Regions from separate parts of the Homo sapiens genome. Here region 1 is linked to region 2. The links come from fine-mapping of genetic effects on gene expression. A gene starts in region 2. The other region holds a variant in brackets. All regions are shown on one strand. Distances are from middle to middle.

The links. PIP is the estimated chance that this variant, and not a neighbour inherited with it, causes the effect.
Region 1: its variant is fine-mapped to the expression of TP53INP1 in spleen (GTEx, PIP 0.92).

Annotation. Positions count from the first base shown.
Region 1 is chr8:95,195,645-95,205,648 of GRCh38, forward strand. No RefSeq gene overlaps it. Among named protein-coding and RNA genes, the nearest start is that of LINC01298, 16 kb to the right of the region's middle. The variant C/T (reference allele first, on the strand shown) is at 5,763.
Region 2 is chr8:94,943,661-94,953,664 of GRCh38, forward strand. It overlaps TP53INP1 (tumor protein p53 inducible nuclear protein 1), which reads right to left and starts at 5,718. Exons shown (of 4, transcript NM_033285.4): 1 at 5,494-5,718. It also overlaps a transcript of NDUFAF6 not described here. RefSeq lists enhancers at 5,059-5,687, 5,688-6,317, 6,184-6,353, 6,524-6,573 and silencers at 5,134-5,273, 5,494-5,873, 5,954-6,063.

The DNA.
Region 1 (10,004 bases), 250 kb after region 2:
AGTTGGCTTGGTGTAGTGGGAAGAGCCAGGCCTTCTCACTCAGTCAGATCTGGGTTAGGATTTTTTTTTCTGCCATCTTCCTTGCTGTGTGCTGGTGGCTTTTCCACTCTATCTTCCTCATAGAGATCTGGCCTCATGCTCTCAGACTTCATATAAGAATAAATAAAATACTACATGCAAAAGGAATAATATTATATACTGCCAAACACTCTACAAAATATACTGAAAGTGCTTGGAGAGCTTTAAATAGGGTTTCTGAAAATTTGCCTTTTGCATGGGTGGTAGGAAGAGAGGAAGTCGAGTTAATTCCAAATGGTGGCTGATGCTGACTTGGTTTTGATGGACTGAACCAGCCAGATCCTCCAACCCGCCCGGACTCTGCTTCTACTTCGCTCCCTGTCAGGATTTGGGTGTGGGAGCCCAGTGGGCCCCATGCCAATCTGGGTCATAACTAGAACTGCCAGTACTAATCATGCAGAGCTGCTGGTCTAGTTCTTATTTCTGCCCCTGCACCCATAGAAGAGGCAGTGCTCTTGGTCTGGGTGGAAACGGAGGCAAAGTGGACAGCACCTTACCCGCTCTGCCACGGCCACCTGCTGGCTGCCTTGGCCAGCAGTCACTGAGCTTGGAACCTTGAGGGGGGATTGGAGGTGACCTTGGGGCCATCTCAAAGGATACACCTGTTTCTGCTGCCAAGAGCAGCTACCTACAAGGGCAGGTATGGGTTTTTTCTGTTGCTGAGACGGGTTGTATCCCTCTCCTAAAGCTCCCCTCGGTTCCGTCTATAAAAGATGTAATATGGTGGCCGAGTTAAGCGCTTGGATTCTGCCACTGAACTTGTTTTCTTGGAGATCTGACTCGTTGCCATCAGCAACATGGGCGGGGTGGAGCTGGCTTTCTCTGCATCTGTTCTCCTCTACACCTGATGTTAACAGAATGCCTGGATTCCGGGGACTTCCAGGTCTAGCCGGGCCAGTTTAGACTGTGCCAGGGATCTGTAATTAGGCAAGCAGTTGGGTCAGAAAAATACACAGGCACTGGAGGACCTGACAAGGTGAGGAGGGAGAGCGGGGAGGCCCTGCCTCAGCCAGGAGTCTTCAATGTAGATGCTGCGTGCTGGGCTCTGGTATGGCCAGCACTGGGCCTACAGATGAGCTGCATTGGGGAAGTAAAAAGTGAAGAGACCGGCCGCATTGAGAAGCAGGACCAGAGCAAAGTGCATTGATTGACAAAGGCATCTCTCTGAAAACTTTAGAGAACAGTCTTTGAGAATGTTATGTCACTTTTGCTTATATCAACATGCAAAACTATAAAGCCATTTCATCTTTGTCTTTTGCTATGGTCAATAGCTAAAAATACCCCCAGCACTGGACAGGATGAGTACAGCATAGTGGCTAATTAAATATGCAAGTTTTAGAGCCAGACCACCTGGATTCGAAACCTAACTTTACTCCCTTCTCACTGGGTGACATGGAACAAGTCATATGGAACAACCGATTCGTGCCTCAGGTTTCTCTTATGGAAAATGGGGCTAATAATAGTATTCACATCGTAAGATTGTTGTAGTGAGAAGAAAATGTGAGTAATACATGTAAAGTGCTTAGAACAGGAATTGGCATGAATAAATGCTCAATAAGTTTTAGCTACTCTTGTTTTATGTCATTGTTTCAAGAGTATAACTTTTCTCCTTTCCTTCTGGTATCATGGATCTGATGAAAAATAGGTTGCAACCTGTATGTCAAGTTCAACCAATTGGTTGTAGCTACCTGGAGAGCTGTGTTGAGAAGGATTCTGAGGCTGCATCAACCTCATTTAAGGGGAAATTATATAGTGTCCTATGAGTAGTACTATGAGTAGCATCTCTGCTACTGGATATGGTAGTGGGGAGTGGTGGCATTGGTGCCACATCATTTCCATTCCTGTATTATAACTTGTCTTGTTGTAAGGTTTGTTTTTCCCTGTGTCTGTCTCAGCCCTCCCCTCCCCATCTGCCTTTGCCTCTGTAGGGCATCCTGGTCCGTGGATGGGCTTGGATGCCAAGAGCTGCTCTGTAAGAACCTTCTCAGATGATGATGATGATGATGATGATGATGATGATGATTCTGGAGAAAGCAAAGACCACATGGCCTGATACTGAGGATGCTGCTAGGCCGTGAAGCACCCACAGGATCCTTTGTGTGCCAATCAAGGGCACCCTTAGAGAAATCAGGAAACTCTTCGCTGAGCAGGTTAATCTTCATGACGCCCATGGTTCTGGAATCGGAACACTAATGATTAGCACAGAAACTTCCCCACAGCCTCAGTAATCATTGACTTATTAATCCATGCAGTTCAGGACCTTGTGCTGAGTTATCTCTATTTCCATTCATTGGTCAGTCTTTTCTGTCTGGACACAGGACCACTGTGGTCAGGTCATCCAGTGGCACCGCCATGGCCATCCGGGTTTGCTGAGTGCCATTCTGCTAACTTTTGTGAGCTGTGCTCTGTCTTGAGTCTGACACCTGATTTGAATATCTGGCTTTACCAATTACTATCCTTATCATTTGGGTAAGTTGTTTAAACTCTCAAAGCCTCACTTTCCTTGTCTATAAAATGGGAGGAATAACAGTTCCACCTCATCAGGTTGCCGTGAGGCCTAATGAAAGAATGCATTGTAAGTGCTTGGTATGTGCCTCGCCCATATTAAGCATGCCAAAAGCGACAGCTCTTGTTTTCCTAACTCAATCAGAAAGCTCGTTAAGTGATATGACATAAAAATAATGGTTCATATGTGTATGGCACTTTCACATTCATTGTGCTGGGCATAGAGCAAATGCTCAATGAGGATTAGCTACGATTATTATCATTAAAAACAACATTGACAGTGACAGCTCTACTTAAGCTGCTAGGAAGGGTGAGATAATCACCCAAGTCCTAGACTAGGCTTCTTAATCTGGTGCCCATGGACCTGTTGGTGATCTGGGGATAGAATTTATGGGGTTTGTGACCTTGGATGAGAAAAAAAATTAGACCTTTATTTCCAATAACCTCTAACTGAAATTTAGAATTAATTTCAATTGTGAATGTAGGAAACAAAATACATCACCTGTGATGTTGACACTAATATACATCTACATCTTTTTTTCTTTTTTTTTTTTTGAGACAGAGTTTCACTCTGTCACCCAGGCTGGAGTGGTGCAGTGGCACCATCTTGGCTTACTGTAACTTCTGCCTCCTGGGTTCAAGCGATTCTCCTGCCTCAGCCTCCTGAGTATTTGGATTTACAGGTGCCCATGACCATGCCCTACTAATTTTTGTGTTTTTAGTAGAGACTGGGTTCTACCATGTTGGCCAGGCTGGTCTCGAACTCCTGACCTCAAGTGATTTCCCTGCCTTGGCCTCCCAAAGTGCCGGTATTACAGGTGTGAGCCACCATGCCTGGTTTAAATCTGCATCTCTTTATAGTTGTTGCAGATATCTTGAAATATTGGGTGTTTGTTGCTACTTCAAAATTATGGTAGATAGTAAATCTCTACTATAACTCATTATTTAATATCTTAATAAAGAAGCACATATTTTGATACTTACATTTCAATATAACTGGTTTTTTTGAATACTATATATTTTATTTTGTGCATTTAATAATCATCTTCAGAAAAGTCCACAGCTTCACCAGACTGCCAAAGGCATCCGCGGCACAAAAAGAGTTAAGAAGTTACAGAGTGCAAGGCTGTCCCCAGGATCACCTCACTTCTGATGCCAATTATCTGTTGAGGGGTGGTGGGAGTGGGAGGGGATCAGGTCTGGCCACCCTCAGATCTGATAAATCAGCAGGAGGACTTACCAACTGAAAGCTGTTACACTTATAGTTTCAGTGGAAGGAATGGGCCAAAGGAAGAAATGCATGGAGCAGAAAGTCCCGAAAGGGAAGCTTCTAGTTGTCCTCTCCCAGTAGACTCATGGGCAGCACCAACTTTTCCTGGCCAGGATATGTGACAGTACATGTGGAGTACTGCCACCCAAGGAGCCTCACCCGAGCCTTTGTGTACAGAGTTTTTACTGGGTCTCAGACAGGTAGACATGGTGGACTACTTGTGTGACTGACCTTTAATCTCCAGCCCTTCTGGAGGTCGAGCTGATACTATGTGGCTCAAAGCCCCCAACATAAATCACGCTGTTAGGCTATTCAATGTGGTTCAAGACTGCCCAGGCAAACAAAGACACTCTTATCAGGCAGGACATCCCCAGGGCTTAGAGGTACCTCCCAGGAACCTCTGGACATCTCTGGATAAGGCCAATTCTTTACTACACAGTACCCTACTCTTGAAACTGCCACAGAGCTGCACACTTGGAGCAGCTGGAGGTAGGTGAGAGGGTGGAAGAATTAGCTAACACATAGTTGTAGCCACTGAAACACAATTTAGTGGAAGATTTCTTTTTGTACCTGCAAAGACAGCATAGAGTTCATTGCTTTCAGAGGCAACTGAGTAGTTCCAGGTTAAAAATATCACTTGGCCTGGGTTTAGCACCTAACACTTTTCAGTGTATTTCCATCTGTTGTCTCATTTAATCCTCAAAAGAGGTGGAAAGAAGGGGTGTTGTTAAGCCTGGCCTGGAGGTTGGGGCTCACCAGGGTCATGGGATGAGGGAGCAGGGGCAGCATGTGGAGGGTCCTGGCTACTTCCCTCACCCTGCCACACCCTGACTCCTCCTCCCAGGTTGTTCAGACAGAGCGAGTCCTGTGGTCAAGAAGATCAGCAGATATTTTGCAGAATCAGGTATCTGGTAATGCCAGGGTTGTGCAGGGAGCTTAAGCAGCTTTGGAGATGACCTGTTGTGGAGTACACCACACTGGGCGATTACATGAGGTCACTGCCCACCTGATGTGACCAACTTACTTGTGGGAAAGCAGGCTGTTTGCTGGAGTCTCTGAGGTCCAACATGTTTTGATTCATCTGAAGCAAGCCTTCACCCAGGGTCATGACCTCACCCTGAAGTTTGGTGTAAATTCCATGCAATCTCTGTGTAAACATTGGAAAGCCACTCTTTCAGGGCGCTTTCCTTTAGGGGCCTTCCCTGGGGGGTTAGGCCATTTCTGTGGGGCTGCAGCTGCAATGGCAATGGCTGTACCTGGTTCCTCTGCAGGAGGCTGAACCCCCTGAAGGGGAAGAAAGGCAGTGTGTCTGGGACTCTGCCCACTCCCTCTGACCTGTACTGTTCCCTCAGGCTTTCTGGGGTGCAGCTGGGATCTAGATAGCCTTGTGTTTTCTCTGAAGGTGACATCTGTCTTCACAAGTGCATTTGTATATAATTTGTACAGGAATTGGCACTATTTTATGGAGGTCTGTGTGGTTTTTTTAGCTGCCATTTTTGCTTCCTGCTTACCTGTGATGCTCGTCCATAATTATTGGAAGCACCACTCTTTCAGGCAGTTATCTGACTGGGCTGCAGCTCCATGGAGCAGGGCCTGCCCTGTCCTGTTCACAGCTGCATCTTGCCGCCTATGACAGTGCCTGGCATGTACAGCACTTGCTAAATGTTTGTTGAATGAATAAATAGAAAAGAATCTTATGAGGCTACTCACTGACTTAGTTTCCTGTGGCTCCTGTAACATATTACTGTAAACCTGGTGGCTTATAACAGCAGGCATTTCTTCTCTTACAGTTCCGAAGGCTGGAAGTCCACAATCAGTGTCACTGGCTGAAATCAAGGTGCTGGCAGGCTGCGCTCCCTCTGGAGGCTCTAGGGGAGAATCCATGTCTTCCAGCCTCTGACGGCTGCAG[C/T]GTTTCTTGGCTGTGGTCGCAGTCTCTGCCCCCGTGGTCACATCACCTTCTCCTCTCCTGTGTGTGCCTCCGCCTTATTAGGGCCACCTGGATAATCCAGGATCATCTCCTCATTTCAGAATCCTGGATCCGGTAGCAAAGTGCCCCTCCCTCTTTTCTGTATCGGTGGCAGCCACAGGGAGTGGGGATCAGGAGGTGGCTATCTGCCACACTCACGAAGGGGATGGAAACCTGAAGGGAGCTGGTCACTCCCTCACTGAGGAGCCTGGTTGGGGAGAAGACACGTGGTCCTAAACACTTCTAATTCAGGGAGAGGTGTCGACGAGGACTCCAGTTCATAGGGAAAGCTGTCATGCCCATGGGTGGGAGCCTCCATTACTATGGAAAGTCTAAGAACCACTTCCTTTTGCCCTTAGAGCCCATTCCTCAGCAGACCTCCACTCGCGTCGCCAAAGCAGATCCCAGACTTGACTCTCATGTTGTAGTGGCACATGGAGGAGCAGGGAGCCCATCCTCACTAGGGCCCGGGTTCGAGGGCCCCCTGGGCATTCTGATGGGCACCCCATCTCCTCCTGAACAGTGCTGATTAGTCACTCTCCCATGGGGAGGGCAGGGGTTAGTGGAAGAAGCAGAACAACTTGCTGGGAGATAAGGGAAGATCATTTTAAAAGGTCAGATGCCACATAAGGAAAGGTCAGGTAAGAAGGAGCCTCAGGCTGGCAGCCTACAAAACGTGGTAAATTTTGCTTTTTAAATTCCCCGGGACCTGAAGCTGCTGCACCTGTCTTCTGTCTCCAAGCAGATCGTGAAAAAGAAAGATCAAAGAAAATGGAAAGGGGCTGGGTGTCTGCATATAGTAGGCTTGTCTATACACACGCCCACTCCACATCACCCTCTTAATGGAACTCCCCTGCCCGCAGTGGTTCCAAATACCTTTTTGGCTTATTGTTCTAGGGACCTGTATACTGTAGGCCCCTCTTATCCATGCAGGATAGGTTCCAAGACCCCTAGCAGATGCCTGAAACTTCCAAGAGTACTGAACCCTATATATACTGTACCATGTTTTTTCTTTTCTTTTCTTTTTTTTAATAGAGATAGGGCCTCACTGTGTTGCCCAGGCTGGTCTCGAGATCCTCCCACCTTGGCCTTCCAAAGTATTGGGATTACGGGCGTGAGCCACTGCACCCGGCCTACTATGTTTTTTTGATTTGACAGTGATGCTGGCTACTAAGTGCCTCACAGGCAGGTAGAATCTATGGTGTGGAGATGCTGGGCAAAGGGACCATTCACATCCTGGGCAAGACGCAGTGGGACAGCACGAGATTTCATCACAGTACTCAGAATGGTGCAAAATTTAAAACTTATAAGTTATTTCTTTCTGGAATGTTCCATTTAATATTTTCAAACTACAGCTGACCACAGGTAACTGGAACCTCAAAAAGTGGATAAGAGGGGATATCCTTCAGATATTCTCGTAAGTTGCCCTGATGTCATCATTGCTTTGATCGGGTATCCTAGACCACCCAGGTAAAGAGTGCCCAGGTACAGGCGGGAGTACAGCAGAGTATAATTCCAGGACCTCTCGGCTCAAGTCCTGTTAATACCCAGCTGGTGTGGGGGTTGGGTAGGTACAGAGTCTGCATTTTCCTTCCTGCAGGGCTTAACTGTCTCCAGCCTGGATGGGCTGCCCTCCCTGGTAGTCTCACCTCTGCCTCCTAGGGGCCCTGGGCAGAATCTTTGTCTATTTTGCCTCCCTTTTATCTGATTCATCACCTGTGGGCACCAAGAGCTATTGTGGAATATTGGGCAGAGTCCTGCGTGACGATTCAGGTGGCCTTGGGTGAACTTCTGCTTTGGATCGCTGAGTTTTCACAGATCAGAAGGCATCTCTGGGCCTCCTCCATCTGCTGGTCTGAAGTGGGGGAAAACGGGGTGATCAACAAGCCTCTTTCCAGTGGTGGCACTCCGGGCCTCTGTGGTGCTGGGATTGGCTCAACCAAAAACCCAGCCTGGATCCTGAAGCCCAGGCTTTATTCTGCCTGTATCTGTGGCCCTCCTTTAAAGTGCCGGGATGAGCTGGTTTGGTGGCACATGGCTCTGTGTCAAATATGTGAAAGAGCAGCCTGGACCTCGCATTTTCAGAGAGGAGAGGACAGGCCGTCTTTGGCACACTCGAGTGGGCAGGGGCCAGGTGGTGGGGCTGAGGAAGGGGTGCAGGGGTGGAGTGGGGTAGGGGGGTCCAGAAAGATCCAGCATCCTCCCATCTGCAGCTCTCTCATGGGGTGGATCTGCATGTCCTTTTGCTGGGCAGAGGAGCCTGAAGGGATGTATCAGCAGGTGGCTGTCTGTCTAATTCACGCTATAACACCATACCATAGACTGGGTGGCTTAAACAATAGACGTTCACTTCTCACAATTCTGGAGCATGGGATTCCAAGATCAGGGTGCCAGCATGGTTGAGTTCTGGGGAAGGCTGTCTTCTCAGCTTGCAGACAGCCGACTGCTCACTGTCTATTCACATGGGGACAGAGAGGTCACCTCTCTTATGTCTTTTCTTATAAGGGCACTAATCCCATTTGTGAAGTCTCCACCCTCATGACCTAATCACCTCCCAAAGGCCACACCTCCTAATACCTTTGCAGTGGGGATTAGGGATTCAACATATGAATTTGGGGCGGTGGGGAGGGCCACCAACATAGCACTGTCCTTGAGGGGTCAGTGGTGGCAGTGTCACTCCTGCTGCCCATGAGGCCAGATGCCTGCTGGGGAGTCTGGGCATGAACACGAGGTGGGGAAAGGGAGTTCCATCCCAACCCCTTCCCTGAGGATAAGCTTGCCTGGACAGAGAGCCTCCCAGTTTACAAGTGTAAGGTATATGGATGTGCTTTGGTCAAGAACAGGCCGAGGTGGATATCCAGGCCTGCATGACTCAGTGAGTTTAGAGTGCAGGCATATAACTCCACTTGTTATCACAGCCATGTAGCCATGTGGCCCGATGCCACTATTGTCTGTAAAAGCTATAATTGCCCTGCTGACTCTGTACAGGTGCACTTGCACCCAGAGAAAGAGAGAGAGAGCCAGAGCTGTCGGTCTTTGCAGATGGACAGGGGGAGCCAGGACACAGCTCAGCCTACTCATGCCCAGAGAGAGAAAGAGTTCAGCTGCTGACCCTGAAGGCAAGGGAGAGCTGGCCACGCAGGTGTGTGTGGGAGCTGGCTGCTGAGAGGAGCCGCCGAGCTGGAGCAGGCAGCCAAAATAAAGGTGAACAGTGTAAACGAGCTAGTGTAAGCTGCTGATGAGAGAGCTGCTGAATAAAATTACATTTCACCTGCCTACAGCACCCCGAGTGTTCTTTCAGCTATCTGCTCATCCATCCCCTCTTTTCGGACCTCAGCTGGGACTGGACCCCAACCCTGAGCATAACAACAAGTGATACTTTTGTTAGGTCCATTTTCACTTCATCAGAAATGTCCTGAGCTCTCCCTGGGCACTGTCCTGTGGCTGGTAAGAGGCAGAGGTGAGTCAGATGTGAAGCCCACTCTCTAGGGGTTCCTCCTCGTAGGGCAGATGGGCAGGTGAACCCGGTACGAGGAGCCCAACAAGTTAGGTGTGTACAAGGTTCAGACTTGTCATCTTGACATTTCCCAGATGTACCACGTTCCTTCCCACTTCAAGGCCTTGCCACATGCTGTTCCCTCTGCCTGAACCCCTTTCTCCCCTTCCTCTGATAAACTCCTAGTTATACTTCAGGTGCTCCTGAAAGTCTTCCCCGAGGCCCTTCCCTTCATTATGCCAATTGCTGTTGTTCGACAATCTTAGAAACCTGTGTTTCCTTTTCCTCTCCCTCCTGCAGGGCAGGAACCGTGTCAGTCTTGTTCCTTGTTGTAACCCAGTGCCGGGCACATGGTAAGTACTCGGGAAATGTTTATTGAATGAATGAAGAAAGCTGTTGCACAGAGGAGTCACTGGTTCACTCTAGAAGTGGGGGAATCTGGGAGGATTTTCTGGAGGAGGTGATGACTAAGCCAGGTGTTGAAGGAAGAATAGAAGTTTGCAGGGCATACCAGGCAGTGGAAACAGCATGCACAAAGACTCAGAGAGGTGGCGTCTTATGGAAGCTCACTGTTGTTGGAATGCAGAGTGAGGGGACAAGGGGTGAGGCGAAGGTGTGGCCAAGGCATGACCTGCTCATGGAAGGTCCAGTGGATGTCTTCAGAAGCTGGGGGATGTGGGTAAGGAGGG
Region 2 (10,004 bases):
GATTCCTGGTTCAGTTCCTTGTGTGTAAACTGAACTGCTACAGTTGTTTGGCACACTACTACACAAGTTAAACATTTCAAATAAATAACATTAGAACACTTTGTGGTCACAATTCATCTTCTTCAGCCACTAATTATTAAAAATAGGTAAACAGGAAGTGTCACTTGCATAACCAGTCTTCCTGAAACCTTCTGGAAAGCAGCACGGCCAAATCATGAAGGCTGGAGCTGTAGCAGAATTCAAAGTCAGCTTTATGCTCTATGTAAGAACAATCAGAAGAAAAGTGTAGTTTGTTTGACCTGCTGTGGTGTGATAGTTATATTCCAAAATAAGTTATCATAAGGTCTGATGTAAATAAAGATTTTTGAGGATACATGCTTAGAGGGAAAAACATATTTTCAAAATCCTTCCTCCATTTATTTTAAATTGTGGAGGCAGATATTGGCCCCACGTACAATTCTGTGTCTGCTGAACCAGTTGAGAGAATAAGCCCAATTCTGCAGAGCATGGTGCTGGACTCTAGCCCTGAATCAGCTAAAGCCACTGGGAGGGGAGAACCACACAGGGGAACCTTTGCTTGTCCTGAACGAATGCCTTGTCCCCAACCTGTGATGCTGCATGAGAGTAAGGCACTGGGGCCCAGGTCAGATAACTGGCAGCTGTAAGGCCAAAAAACATTGCTGGGGCCACTGCAGTTGTGACAGCTGCTGGGTTCCCACATGCAAATTGCCCCCTCTGGCCACAGGTCCAAACCCAGGAAGGCAGCTTCTGCCTGGAATATATGCAAGTAGCAAGTAAGATACAGGAAAGGCTTCTCTGGAGGAGCTTTCTAGGGAGCAGTACAAGTCAGTGCTCTTTTGGTTTCCCAAAGTCAGAGGCTGCCTCCAGATGTCCCATATCTCTGCAAGGACAACCAACCTTGGGCGACAGAGTGCTCAGAAGCCCAGCCAAGTGAGGGAGGAGCTCATCCTTCATCTCACTCAAGCCACTGCTGGTGTTTACATGGCACATCTGCTGACACCCGTGGGAAGAACACAGAATGGAGTTCCTGGGGAGGGTTAAAGGGGCCTGGCCATCCACAGCAGCAGTTCTGGCTGTGGCTCTACTACAGGTGGCTGGAGCTAAATTGGCCCTTCTGAGCTTCAGTCTCACTGTTGGGAAAATGGGGAGACTGCGCTGAATCACCTCGTCACTCTCTTTCCCCACAAACTTCTAGCACAAAAAAGTGAGGCTGGTTTAACTAGCAAAGCCAAATTCCTTTGGCCCTGCTTTCTGCAGGTGTCACAAAAGGCAAGGAGCTATTGGAGAGACCCTCCCCCCATTGCTAAAACTGTCCACTGAGGTAGCCACCAGGCACACTGTGCACATGAACACTTGAAATGTGACTAGTATCATCGAGAAACTGCATTTTTCATTTTACTATTTAATCCATTTACTAAGTTTAATCCAGTTAAACTTAAAAGCTGATAATTTAGTTTTTTGAAAACTTTCAAGTATGTTTGGAACAGTTAGGGTATGAATCTACTTTTTCACCTATAAATTTTACGAAGTCTAAATATAGATCAAGTACTTCAAATGAAAACTTTGTATCTGAATTGAGATGTGCTGTATATGTAAAGTACACACTAGAGTGTATTTCAAAGACTTAGTACCCCCCAAAATGCAAAACAGTTTTTATATTGATTACATGTTGAAAAAATAATTTTAGTATATTAAATACATTAATAAAATTAACTTCACCAGTTTCTTTTTCCTTTTTAAATATGGCTACTAGAAAATTCAAACATACATGTGGCTCACATTATCTATTTCTGTTGAACAGGACTGTTCTAGAAAAAGTCTTAAAGGCCTACCCTCCTACTGATGACCCAGAGACTGTCCCTGCCCAGTCACTGCTACTGTTGACCTTGGCTCCTGCCCAGGGATGGAGGCTCTCAACTGGGCTGGTTCTACATGGAGGTAAATGGAAAAGTAGAGCTTTAGACTCCTCTCCTCCCCAGATCACCACTAATATTCACAATGCTAGGGCAATCATAGAACGAAAATAAAAATTCCAGAGAAAGCATGTGTCCTAAGAGGACAAACTTACAAATACAGTTCTGGAATTCAGCAAAGAGGTGAAGCAAAGAAGGTTAGGTGAAGTAGCGCTGTTGTTCTTTGAACAGCTTTAACCAGCGTCAGTCCAGCAGTTTCCCCGACAAGAGAAAAGAACCCCTCAATACAGAAAAGAAACAAAGTGTCTGGGCCCTAGCATTTCAAGAAGGCAGCTTTGTCCTTGTTCTGCTTGGCTCAAAAGACCTCCATCCCTCCCTTTAAAAAATAAATTATGTCTTTTCAATTATAAACTGAACAAAACCACATTATAAAAAGTCTAGAAAATAAGAAAAATAAGTATTATTCCATTGCCTTGTTCCCACCACTTAACACATTGGTGCCTTTTCTTCTGTTTTTTTTTTTCTTCTACACATAAGGCTTCTTTTTATCATAGTTATAGTCTTGTGAATGCACTGTTTTGTATCTCACTGTTACTTAACATTTTATCATCAATGGTTTTCATATTATTACATGAGTAGAGATGCTTTGTAGGCAGAGAAAGGTGGCTGACTGAGTCTAATACTCACGGGGAAGAGCATTCTAGTTTGACCACTTAGAAAAGGAACTGCTAATTTGGAAGATCTTGTTAGCATAATTTATTTTGTCACTTTTAAGACAGCCCACCAAGAGGCAGTATATTGTGGTACTTAAAGACTGGCTCTGAGGCTGGGCGCAGTGGCTCATGTCTATAATCCCAGTGCTTTGGGATGCCAAGGCAGGAGGATCACTTTAAGCCAGGAGTTCAAGACCAGCCTGGGCAACAAAGCAAGACCCCATCTCTACAAAAAATAAATTAGCTGGGTGTGGTGGTATGTGCATGTAGTCCCAGCTACCAGGGAGGCTGAGGTAGGAGGATCGCTTGAGCCCATGAGTTTGAAGCTGCAGTGAGTTGTGATCCCACCACTACACTCCAGCCTGGTCAACAGAGTAAGACCCTGTCTCAAAAAAAAAAAAAAAAAAAAAAAAGACAGGCCCTGGAGTTTGAAATCTTGGCTCTGCTACTTGCAACCTATGTGAATTCAGGATATTTACTAACATCTTGGTGTCTCTGTTTTCTCATCCTTAACATGGGAATGATAGTTATAATACCTACTTCACAGTGCCAGTGTAAGGATTAAGTGTATACTACTTAGAATAGCAGACCTCGGTTCATTCAAAGCCAGTTGTGAGACTGTCAACAAGTCATTTAGCATCGCTGCATTTGAGTTTCTTTATCCATAAAATGTCTACTTAATAATTAGAGCTACAATTTACAGAATGCTTATTGTATGTAACGGGGCCTTGAAGTACTTATTTGTCCCATTTTACTGATGAGGAAACCGAGGCTGAGGAATTAACTAACTTGTTCAAAAGTGACAGAGTTGGTTGGGGTGGAGTCAGCATTAGGGCAAAAATCCATCTGATTCCAATTCCTTGTTTTCCCTATACATGCTCTTTTAGGCTCCCAGTCTCAACTATGGGTCTACGAACTTCAGAAAACAGCCCTTTTCAGTTAGTTTCAGCTGCCAGTAGGCGGCTCCAAAAAATATTAAAAAAAAAAAAAAAACCCGCAAGTTTGATGATCTAACTTCTAAATCTGTGTACAGTTGTGGCTCCTTCACAGTTTCAGGAAATCAGGTGGCTAAACGTACCGTCATTGAAAAGCAGCTTCAGAATTATCCTTCTTTTTATCCCACCCTCTTCCACTACTTTAAAAACGTGCAGATTCTAGTAATTTAAAATGGGTTTTGAACTGGAGAAAAACCAAGCCAAGAAAGTTATCTCTGCTTGTTCCACTTATATGAAGACTAGATTCAAGTAATTTAAAATGGATTTTGAACTGCAGAAAAAACCAAGCCAAAAAAGTTGTCTTTGCTTGTTCCACTTATGTGAAGACTGTTCAACTAGTGTGCAAGGGAGGTTATTCCCCCAGGGATCCACCCCTGTCTGCCCCTAAGGCTGAAAGACAGTGGACAAAGACAAGAGTAAGTGGTAATTCATAGCCTGATAATCTTGAATTTTGAAAGCAGACATCAGAGGAAGCAATGGCAGGAAAGAACAAAAGATAGGATGAGAAAACAAGACCTTGGTCACAGAAATTAGTAAGGTCCTGGTTCCAGGCAGGGGCCTTTTAAAATTATGCTGCCAGTTCAGAATTACACTGATTGCGACTTAAAAGCTTCCCAGTGCTTTTCACATCTGCAAATGAAAATGTATTTCAATTACCAGGCTGGTGATTTCAGTATCGTGGGGGAACTCATTATGACTTCTGTTCAGTGACCCCAAGGGTCACATTGTTCCCCCTTTTCCCAAAACTATTGTGCATTGAGAAAAGGCTTTTTTAGCAATAGATGCCCAAGTCCTTGGGAGTCACAGTTGTAAAGAGGCTCTTCCTTAATCCACTCTGTATTGGAATTAACCTACTGAGCAGATATAATCAGAAAATACAAGCAAAACAGACTCTCCAGGTAAAATTCAGCTGCCACTTTGAAATACAAACACCATTTCCTTTTATTAATTGGCTGTGTGGCCTTGAGCAACTTAATCTCTCTGTGCCTCGGGTTTCCTATGTGTAAGATAGCCGGGCCTATTTCATATAAGGTTATTATGAGAATCAACTGGGGCGATAAAGCAAAGCCCCCAGCATAGTATATGGCACATACTCAGCGCTCAGTAAGCGTGAGCGATCCAAAGGATCTAAATGTTAAGGGCCAAGGAGAGCGCTCTTTCCACAGGTGCAAAGTCAGGTAGCGAAGACTGAGTTCAAGCCAGGTCAAGCAAGGGACAGGCCGCGGACAGGCGGGGGCCGGTGGCCGGGTCACGGAGCAGGTTCCCCATAGCCGCAGGGCCTCCGGAACTCGGAGGGCAGGCGCAGGGGACGGGATCGCAGGGCGGGGACAGAGCGCCGGGCCACAAGCCCAAGCGCCGCTGTCTTCGGAGATGCGTCCCGGGGGTGGCCGCGGGAGCCCCGACGCCGAGTCCCGAAGGGGCGGCCCCATCCAACGGCCGAGAGCAGGCGGAGGAGGAGGAGTGGAGGGGAGTGAGGAGGGGTGAGAGGAGGAGGTCCCGCCGCGGCCAAGAAAACAAGCCACGCTCGGGGGAGGAGGCAGAGACCAAACTCCCAACCGCCGCCCAGCGCCGGGGCCAGGCCGGGCCCTTGTCCGCGCCGCCGCCGCCTCTGTCAGCCTCTGTCCGCGCCCTGGGCCCCGGGGGCCGCCGAGGACCGACCCACTGGGTGGGCGGCCGGGCCCGGCGGCGGCGAGGGGAGGCAGCGAGGGGGCTCGGTGAACGCGCAACCGGCGCCCCGAAGGCAGGGCGCGCGGCCGGCCCCGCCGGGCTCAGGAGCGGGCAGCGCTGCGGCCCCAACCGGCAGCGAGGCGGCCCTGGACGGACGCCCGCCCGCCCCCCCCCGGCACTTACGTGGGCCCGGGCCGTGCGGGGCTGCGCGGGGAAGGGAGCGGCCGCCGGCTCGGCGGGGAAGGACGCGGGCGGGGCGGGACTGCTGAGGTAGCTGCGGTGGGGCCGGGCTGCGCTGCACCTCGTTCAGGTACCCAGACGGCAGGCGCGGGGCCGGCTCCAGCCCTCGGGTCGCTGCGCCCAGGCCGGCCAGTCCAAGTCCTTTTGTTGTTGTGCAGCGCTCGCAACAGCTGATCGGCCGCTCCGCTCGCCGTCGGGCCCCGCTGCCCCGCCCCGGGCCGCGCCAGGCCGGGCCCCACCAATCGGCGGTGCGGGGGCCCCGGGGCCGCCCTGCGAGAGGTTGTCACCAACGCACGTGACCTGGCGCCCGGCCGGCGGCGCGCTCAGCTCCGAAACAAGCCCGGGCAACAAAAACCGGGAGCTGAGCGTGAAGGCCTGGGCGAGCGGAAGGGTGGGAGAGAGGGGCTAGGCCGGGGAGGGAAGCGCTGGGGCCGGGGCCGGCTTTCCAGGAGCCGGCGGGAGCGGGGTGCGTAAGAGGCGGGCGAGGAAGAACCGGCGGGCAACGGGAAGGGCAGAGGTGGATCTCTCCCTCAGCGACCCCTCTCGCCGAGTGAAGGGTCGAGGGTTTGGGGCACAAAGGGCGCAGAACGTTTTTTCCTGTGAGAGGAACATTAAGACTCCTGGGAGGGCTGGGGCTAACGCCTCCGAGAGCCCCACCTGGTCAGCCTAGGGTTAGACGTGTAGCCAGGGTGCTGGGAGGGGGCCGCTGCTGGGCCCCAGATAGAGGGGTAGAGGCCGCTCAATCACGGAGCCAGGCCCCACCTGCTGTAGAAACCGCCACCGAGAGCCGGCCGGGCTTGCTGCACGCTCTGGATTCCGCCTGCCTATAGGCGAGGCACAAGGGACTGCGAGACCAGGCCTGAAGGCAGAGAGGTCAGCAGGCTCGGGGGCCTCTGCTCCAGCGGACAACAAGCGCACCGGGCGGGAACGGCCGCCTCCCCAGGCGCTGCAGCCTAGCTCTCATGTGACCCACGGAACTTAGCCCCTCTGTTCTGTTTGCATACCTGCAAATTGTGGGCATTCACGCCGGGACTGCCAACTCACCAGGTTATTTATAGTGACAAGAGAGTGAGACAGTGGGCTTGAAAGTGTTTTCCAGACCAAGGCTCTGTCCCACATATAGGTGGATTAACTGTCTGGCAAAGGCAGGTGAGTAACGTTGATGCCTATCAGCTCTCATGTGGATACTGTTTGGACTGGGATGTAGTTCTTTGACCTGGGGTGAGCTGTATAGCAACCCTGGAGGGATGCCTATCACACATTACAGTATCTGAAAGACACTCACATTCTGACCCTCACAATGTAGTCAGTCCATTTCCAACAATGCTGGTTTTAAAGGATGTAAATTGCAGTGCAGGGAGTTGTCAGACACCAAGGAGTAATGATCAAAATATGATGGTCATTGGACCTTATCTTGGGAGAAAGAGCTAAAACTGTGTTCTAGATAGTCTCACAGACTTGAACATGCTTTGGATTTTAGGTTTTTGCAAATCAGGCTTGTTCTAATATTTTCTCCCACATGCTATGGTAGGAGCCCCATGATCTCTTGTTTCTCCCTAGGAATCCATTGAAGAGGCCATCTCCACATTCAGAACCAAGGTATGATGACAATTACAAGGGGCTAATTTTTAAAAAGAAAAAGGCCTACCTTTTTCCAGTTTGATAAGGTTTATCATGGTTAAAGCAACATGTGAAATCATCATCTTGTTATGATAGAAAAATTCAATATGAAGTAGATCATTTTTCCAAAGATGACCACAACAGTATCTCCATCATGAAGTGGGTGTATTTTTCTTCCCTTTGAATCTGGGCTGACCCTGTGATTGCTCTGACCAATAGAATGTGGCAGAAAGAATGTTCTAGGACTTCCAAGCCTCGTCATTAAGCAAAAGCATTAAGCAAACCCCACAGCTTCTGCTTTGTACTCTGGAAAATGCCAGCCACCCATGAGGAGAGACCACCCTGCTAGCCACAGGGAGAGGCTATGTGAAAAGAAAGAGATGCCTGGCCAGCTCTAGCTCTTCAGCTCATCCCAGCTGAGCTACCAGACACATGAGTGGAAAAGCCCTTAGGAAGTTCCAGCTCCAGCAGACACCATACTGAACAGAGGAGAGATAAGCCATCCCCACGGAGCACTGCCAAAATGACGGCATTGTGAACAAATAAATGATCATTGTTTTAAGGCACTAAATGTTGGGGTAGTTTTTAAAGCAGCGATAACCAAAACACAAAGCTAACAGAAATGCCCATCACAGATCAGTGACTCTAAACTCTACCAAATAGTGTTTGTGATGAAAACATCTTGTCTCAGGAGTCACTTGCTTTCTGTTTACTCTCTTGCTGATTTATAATCTTCCCACCTGGTGCTTGTTTATTCCCAGTGGTGCACCAAGGAGGGCGTGCCTCAGGGCAGCATAGGTGAAGTCTGTCCCTAGGAGGGAGGAGTACTTTACCACGACATTGTTTGGAACTGTTGGAGCATAATAATAAAAAGCAAACTGACTTTTAGTCAATTTTATTTTAAAATTCTTTGCAGACACACAAATTTACTGTGTACTGCCTGTATCTGGGGTGGATCACTCCCACTGCCTCCCTTCCTGGTATGCCACTGGTTTACATAAATGCATGCAGTGAAACTCAGGAGTAATGTCATCTCCATAGCGTAGAGCTGTCTGAACACAACCAAACTGTCAAATTACACAAATGCAAGCAAGCTTTTCATCTGTTCACTGACAAAGACCCAGCCAGGTTCCCTGCCTGGGCAGATCCAGTGAATCCAACCATCCTTTAATTCACAGAATAATTCTTAGCGTGTTGCTATAGTACCCACTTCCAGGCTGACCCCCTGCTGTGGGGGTGACCCTTTCCCCATCTGTCAGAGTTCTCCTGTCTGTTTTCCATGGAGCTCAATACGCTCCCTTATCTACCCTAACAAAAGGGATTCAACCTCAAGTTTTGTTTGGAAGACTCACAGTGCAGGACCACATTCACACCAACAAACAGATACAATGCAACTAATGCCTCTGCCTCCTGCTTATGAAAGCAGGCTGTGGCCATAACCCTGCCAGTTGCATCGAGGCTGCTAAAGAATGTTGTTTCCTACCAACCCATAGGATGGCTACTTGGGGCAGCCTCAGAACACAAAGCAACAAGTTGTTCTGTCTGTACTGAGGAGAATGGCAAAGTGAAGTCCACTTAGGTCGTTTTCTATCTACCCATCAACAGTTAGGATCTGCTGGGCTTCTACCATGGACACAGCATGTTGCCAAGTGTCTGGGAAAGACAAGAATTTTTTTAAATTGCATTTTAGATAAACAATCACTTAGCATTCCAGTGACATCTATTGTCTTAAGGGAAGAAAGGATCTGACTGGGTCTCCAGAAAGCCTGGAACAAAGAAGCAAGAGATTCTGTGATTTCTGCTTTCTGAAATAAAAACAGAAAACAGGCGTTTAACTGGGCTGCCAGTTACCATCTCAGAAAGGAGTCAAGAATTATTCCAGGGCCATAAGTGTAATAGCTTTTCAAGACCCTGCAACCTTTGTGACTTTTGTATGTTTGTCTTTTTGTTTAACCCTATTTCCACGTGGTGATTAGAAATAAAATCCTTAAAATAAAAAGGGTCTGTGTGCTGGCTGAGGCAGCAGAAAGGAAAAAGGAGGCGGGCCCCCTTCATTCAGTAACCAGTGCTAGGGGGGAGTCCCCAAGAGGTGGGATAGCCTGCGCTGGATTGTAACTAATGATCGCTTCAGGCCTAGAGTATTTTCTCTAGTTTCTGGAAAGTACTTTCAAGGCTTCTTAGTTTCTGGCTGAATGTACAGGTAACCCAATTATTTATGTTAAAACTTAGAGCAGAGGCTGGGCACGGTGGCTTACGCCTGTAATCCCAGCACTTTGGGAGGCCGAGGCAGGTGGATCACCTGAGGTCGGGAGTTCAAGACCAGCCTGACCAACATGGAGAAACCCCGTCTCTACTAAAAATACAAAATTAGCTGGTCATGGTGGTGCATTCCTGTAATCCCAGCTACTCGGGAAGCTGAGGCAGGAGAATCGCTTGAACCGGGGAGGCGGAGGTTGCATGAGCCGAGATCGCACCATTGCACTCCAGCCTGGGCAACAAGACGGAAACTCCATCTCAAGAAAAAAAAAAACAAAAAAAAAACCTTTGAGCAGAAAGCAAGGTCATCCCTTACTGGATATGGTCTAGAGACATGATACAGAATGGCCCTTCATACACCACCCTAGCTCCAAGGAGCCATGAAGCTTGAAGAGGCGCACTGTGTGGGGCAGATGTGACTCGTTCTTGGGGCGGTTGTCAGAGATTAGTTGAAGTGTGTGAGCAAAGGGCTTTTGTAACTCCCGCTGCCAAAGCGACTTCTTCACTCACACTGATACTTCTGGGCACTGCCCAACAGTCCGCATATGCCAGAGGCAACCTGAGGTGGGTCTGTAATC